Linked DNA regions of Homo sapiens: region 2 is linked to region 1. The links come from fine-mapping of genetic effects on gene expression. Tissue or cell type: lung. Region 1 holds a variant in brackets; the other region holds the start of a gene. All regions are shown on one strand. Distances are between the middles of the regions.

Region 1 (2,500 bases):
CAGCTTGGGTCTAATCCCTCTCCTGGGATCTGGGCCTCACCTGCCTGCAGCTAAGCAGTAAAGGAGCTGAGATTCGAAAGCAGGGAGTCTGGGCTCCTACAGGAGTGGTGAGAAAGGGTGGCATGATGGGAAGGCTGGGTCACCCACTACAGATAGAGCCAAACATGCCTAGAGTGTGCCCACCCCTTTCCATCCCTACCCCATTGCAGGTGCAGGTGGAGACGGAACCCTAGACACTGCTCATCCCAATCAGGCCCTTTCCAGGCCTGTCCCATTCCAATCGGGCATCAGATGTGGCATTGATCATCATCTACTTAACAAACGAGGCTCCCCTTTCAATGCACTTGGTGAGTTCACAGGCTACAGGTGGGCAATCCACAGGACCCCCTTGCCTCCCCTCCTGGCCTTCCCCCCTACCACCCCCAATATCAAGTGCAGCTGTGGGTTTTTGTGCTAATGAGCATTACAATGTGGTCAGCTTTTCATCTTATTGTTTCTTCTGATGACTGGAGATTTACCTCATGCAGAAGAGAGTGGAATACTGAGGGTGGGTGCCCCAACTCCCTAAAGCCCTGCTCTGCACTGATGGCCGGAGGTGGGCTAGAAACCAACTGGTTCGGCTGGAGAAGAGGAAGCAACTCATGGACAAGGGTCCCCTTGGGGGGTGGGTCCTTTGGAGAAGGGCCCACAAGGTGTAGAAAGAGCACAGTCCCCAGTCACTGAGCAGCACCATGTGCCCTGGGAAGACACCTCTCAACCCGCCAGCCCCAGGGCTTGCCCTCCTCCTGGGAGAGACTGACAAGTGCTGAAGCTGCCAAGCAATCACAGACAGAGCCAAAGAGCCAAGATATCAGAGGCCTGAGATGATAATGGAGTTGGATTCCTGGAACTAGTCTATCCCAACACCACTTATTGTTTCACCAATCCATTCATTTACTCAAAGAATTACTCATTCAAAATATAAAAGCATTCCATTTTGGTTTCAGAAGAAAAATTACTCATTCATTCAACAAACATTCCACAGGGTCTCCTCTGGGCCAACCTTGGTTCTGAGATAGCAGGTGCTGAAATACTGCTGAATCCTCAAAGCCAGACTAGCCAGTGCCTGGCACCTGATGGGAATATGATTTCAACGAACAGGTGGGTGGATGAATGGATGGATGGATGGACAAATGGGTGGAAGGGTGGATGAATAAATGGGTGAATGGGTGGTGGTGGGTGGGTGGATGACCCTCACCTCCTCACAGAAAGTAATCTTTGCTGTGTTCACATAAAATCCACACAACAATCTCTCTCTCTTTTTCTCTCTCTCTGGAAAGAAATGAAGAGACCACCCAGAAATACAGACCCAGCCTTTCATTCTCTTATATTCCTTATGTCCAACATTTATTGGGCCCTTACCATGTGCTCCATATGGTGCTGGGTCCTGGGAGTTGGAGTTACAAACAACTAAGATGACAGACTTTGCTCCAAGTAGGGATTCTTGGCTCTCAGCCCCATGGAGAAAGTCTCCTTATCACCTTTCTGCACAGGGGAGGAAATCGAGATCAAAAAAG[T/G]TAAGAGACTGAGTTAAGGCCACTCCATCAGCTGCCCCAAAGCCCCTGTGTCTGCTCTGGCTGGCACTCTGAGGTCCCACTGCTGACAAGAGTGGAGTAAGAGGAAAAAGAGGTGATGTGCAATTGTGTGAGGAGTTCTTACCACTCAGGGATTCAGAGGCTGAAGGAAGGTGAGGGCTGGAAGGTCCAGGGAAGGCTTTAAGGAGAAAGAGAGAGGCAGGTAGTGGGAATGAGGTGGGGTGCTGTAAGCTCTAAAGGTCAGAGAGGATGAAAGGGAGTGACCCTTGGTCAGACCAGAGGCTGAGCCACCTTCAAATGCGATTGGCCCTAGCATCAGGTCTGCATTCCCCTCCCCTGCCCTTTATCCTTACCACCATTACCACCACCACCAACATCATCATCATCAACAACACCAATAACAACACCATCACCACCAACACCAACAACTTTATCACTACTAACTACAATAATATCAACATCATTAATATCAACATCATCATCACCAACATTGCCATCATCAACACCAATACAACACCATCACCAACACCAATAACACCATCACCCTCAACACCAACAACACCATCACTACCAATAACATCACCAGCACCAACACCAGCACAACAACACTATCATCACCAACAGCAACACCGTCACTACCAAAAACAACAGCAACACCAACACCATCACCATCACTACCAACACACCAACAGTACCAACAACACTAACACACCAACACCATCACCATCACCAACAACAGCAACACCAATGGTAACAGCAACAATAACAGTCATAAGAGCTAAATACATTTGACCCTGACCATGTGTAGAGCACTGAGCTGAGAGTTTTAAGTGCATTATTTTGTTTGAGTCTCCCGAAGGAGAACCGTGAGAGGGGTACTGCTGTGACAGACACCCCCATTTTGGAGATGAGGAACTGAGTTGTAG
Region 2 (2,826 bases), 61 kb before region 1:
TCAGCACTGACCCTGCCTTCTCTTGCTCCCCAGGGAGGGCTCCCGGAGTAAAGCCTGAGGAACTCCACCTTTACAAGGTGATCTTCAGCGTTCAACAAACTTTGCTTCTCTGGCCACCTCCTTAATCAACTGCAGCCTTTTTCTATTTCTAGCCTGAAACAAACTCCACAAACACTGGCTCTTTCTTCATCTTCCTCCCTTTCCAATGATAATACTGGACAAAAATGGGACAATCTGTAATTTTTGCCCATTTTCTTAGGAATTTTTCCCCTCTAGTTAAAAATCAATCAATCAATCACACACACACACACACACACACACACACGCACGCACGCACGCACGCACACCATGAATTGAGTCAGGGTTCCCTCTGATCATCCCCACCGCGCTCTTCCTTTTGTCTGAAAGGGGCTGGGCAATGATAATTGTGCTTCTGGGGTGAGAGGTGTGGTGTGGGGGGATTCGCAGCAGAGGCTGCGGCAGCTGGTGGGGGGTCCTCCTTCCTGGTCCTCCGATGACTCCGACGACGACGAGGAGCTCTGAAGGGAGACCAGGAGGCGTCTCCACTGACCATGGGGCCCAGCAGCGCGGGGCCCGGGGCCAGCCCCGACCTTCCCCTCCACCAGCGGACGGACCCACAGCCTGAAGGCGGCTGGCACCAGAGGGGCCCCGGCAGGAGCCGATGGGCTGCGAGCGCGCTGGCGAGGGGCGCAGGAGAATGGAACGGGGACAGGGGAGAGGCAGAAGGAGGAGGAGAGGGAAGCCTGGAGAAGAGGAGAGCGCAGAACTGAGGAGCGGGGCAGAAAACAGAGGGAGAGTTGCAGACCGGGCTGAGCTGCAGCGGAGCGCGGGAGTGAGCGGCGGCGGGAAAGCTGGGGTTAGGGGGCCAGGACGTCGCGGGCGAGGGGCGGTGGTGAGTGCAGCCCAAGGGCGCACCGTCCCTGCAACAGCTTCGCGGGCGGGAACAGCAGGAAGGAGTGAGCCTTGGGCGGGCGGTGGGTTTCAGAGGAGGGAGGGCCGAGCAGCTGCAGGGGACAGAGGGGCAGAAAGACAGGGAGGCGGGGAGAAGGTAGGGAGCGGTTCTGGGTAACTACTTCGCTTCGGAAACCGCCCGGGTCTCAGGCCCCAAGGGCATCCCCCTCCTCCCAGATCCCCGTCTTGGGTCCCTGGACCCAAGTCCCGTGGAAGGCGACACCCGCGTCCCAGACCGCCGCGGCGGCTGCTGCCCCCACACGTCTGGTTCGGCTGGCTCTCCCCTGCGAGGGTCGGGGTTTCTGGAGCCCTGCGCACTGGGCTCCCCTTGCCCGCAGCGCCCCTGCGGCCCCTCCTCCCGCTGGCCTGGGATCCCGGAGACGCAGGACGACCTCGGTGCGCGAAGGGGCGGGGGGCGCGTGGGGTCCCTGGGGGCACACCTGCTCACTCATCCCTTCCCGTCTGAGGTCTTCGCTGATGCCAGCTTCACAGGCACGGGCATCAAGGCCCTGAGACGGGAGAAAGGGTAGGCCTCGCAGGTGCACGTGGGAGAGGCTGCACCTAAGCCCCCGCACCAGCCCTGGACCACCAGGGCGCAGGGCCCGAGGTGCGTGACAAAGGGGTGACCTCACCTGTAACAAGTGAACAAGCGTTGACACCCGCGCAGGCTCCAGTGTTCCAACGGCGGAGTCATATGAATCATCCTGATGCTTAATAAACAGATCCCAGAAGGAGCCTGGACATATTAGATCAGAACTTCCCAGGGAGCGGCCCAGGGATCTGGATTTCCAGTGCATGCCCTGCGGTGACCCTCACTCCAGAAAGCTCAGGCCCCACTGAGCTCCAGTGTTCTATCTCCAGACATGGATTACACCCGGGGCTACACAGCGAGACAGCGAACCTGTGCTGGGTCACCAGGTTGAGGGTGGTGGTGAGGTTAGTCTCAAAGCCCAGCCTAGTGGGGCTTCATGGCTCTGTTTTAGCCAAGGGGCTCTTGGATTGTCCCCGGAGGGGTCAAGGGTCTTTCCGCTGTCCTATTCAAAGTGTTTTAGGGTGAAATAATCATGATAATAGTCACAGCACCTGCTACGAATGAAGCAGGCGCTTATAGTCTAGAGAGCTACGGACTTTTGTGAATATTCTGTTTTAATCCTCACAATTGACCTTGGGAGGAAGGTACTATTTATCATCGCACTTCACTGATATGCAAACTGAGGTGCGACCAGGTTATTTTATTTTCTCCAAGTCCTGAAATGGTGCGCTGGGGCTCCCCAGCTCTACCCACAGGTACCTGCCTCCCTCCGGAAGGTGTGGACAGCACAGTGGTGGGCGGCCCAGCCCGGAGGGGGGACTTTGTGCTTCCATAGGAAGGGGTCTCAGAGCCTAGCATCTGGGTGTCCACCCAGGAAGGTGGGTGGGGCACAAGGTGGTCTCTGTTGTCCCTGCAGCTTCTGGGAACCCAGATGAAAGGCAGGAGTGTGGAGCACAGACCTGGGGTCTCTGTAGAATGTGCTGGAGGGTACCAGGAGCTAAAACTATGTGGAGCTGGGTGGGCCCAATAGAGGAGAAGGGAATAGGGGAGGGAGATTCATGAACTAAGTCCAGAGGTGGGGGATGGGAAGGGGAGGAAAGAGCTGATGGCTTTGGAACAGTGCTACTGAGAGAGGCAGGCACTGGGTCTCGGCACCACAGCGTGCCTTTGGTGGTCTCAGGTTCCATACAGGAACCCTGAAACGAAACAGGGAATGCCCTAAAGTGGCACCTCATATACTCTCCAGGTTTCTGGCAGCTCAGCAGTTGGGCTGGGGGTGCTTTCCTGTGCCCAATCCCTGGCACCCTTCCCACACCACCCCC

The links. PIP is the estimated chance that this variant, and not a neighbour inherited with it, causes the effect.
Region 2: it holds the start of LINC01081, and the variant in region 1 is fine-mapped to the expression of LINC01081 in lung (TOPMed, PIP 0.98). The same link has a PIP of 0.9 or more in sigmoid colon.

The regions. Positions count from the first base shown.
Region 1 is chr16:86,224,487-86,226,986 of GRCh38, reverse strand. LINC01081 (long intergenic non-protein coding RNA 1081) reads left to right here. Exons shown (of 6, transcript NR_104139.1): 4 at 210-347; 5 at 1,025-1,140; 6 at 1,320-1,407. Among named protein-coding and RNA genes, the nearest start is that of LINC01082, 30 kb to the right of the region's middle. The variant T/G (reference allele first, on the strand shown) is at 1,557.
Region 2 is chr16:86,285,136-86,287,961 of GRCh38, reverse strand. It overlaps LINC01081 (long intergenic non-protein coding RNA 1081), which reads left to right and starts at 1,715. Exons shown (of 6, transcript NR_104139.1): 1 at 1,715-1,908. It overlaps LINC02135 (long intergenic non-protein coding RNA 2135), which reads right to left and starts at 1,531. Exons shown (of 3, transcript NR_038438.1): 1 at 1,413-1,531. RefSeq lists an enhancer at 2,126-2,811.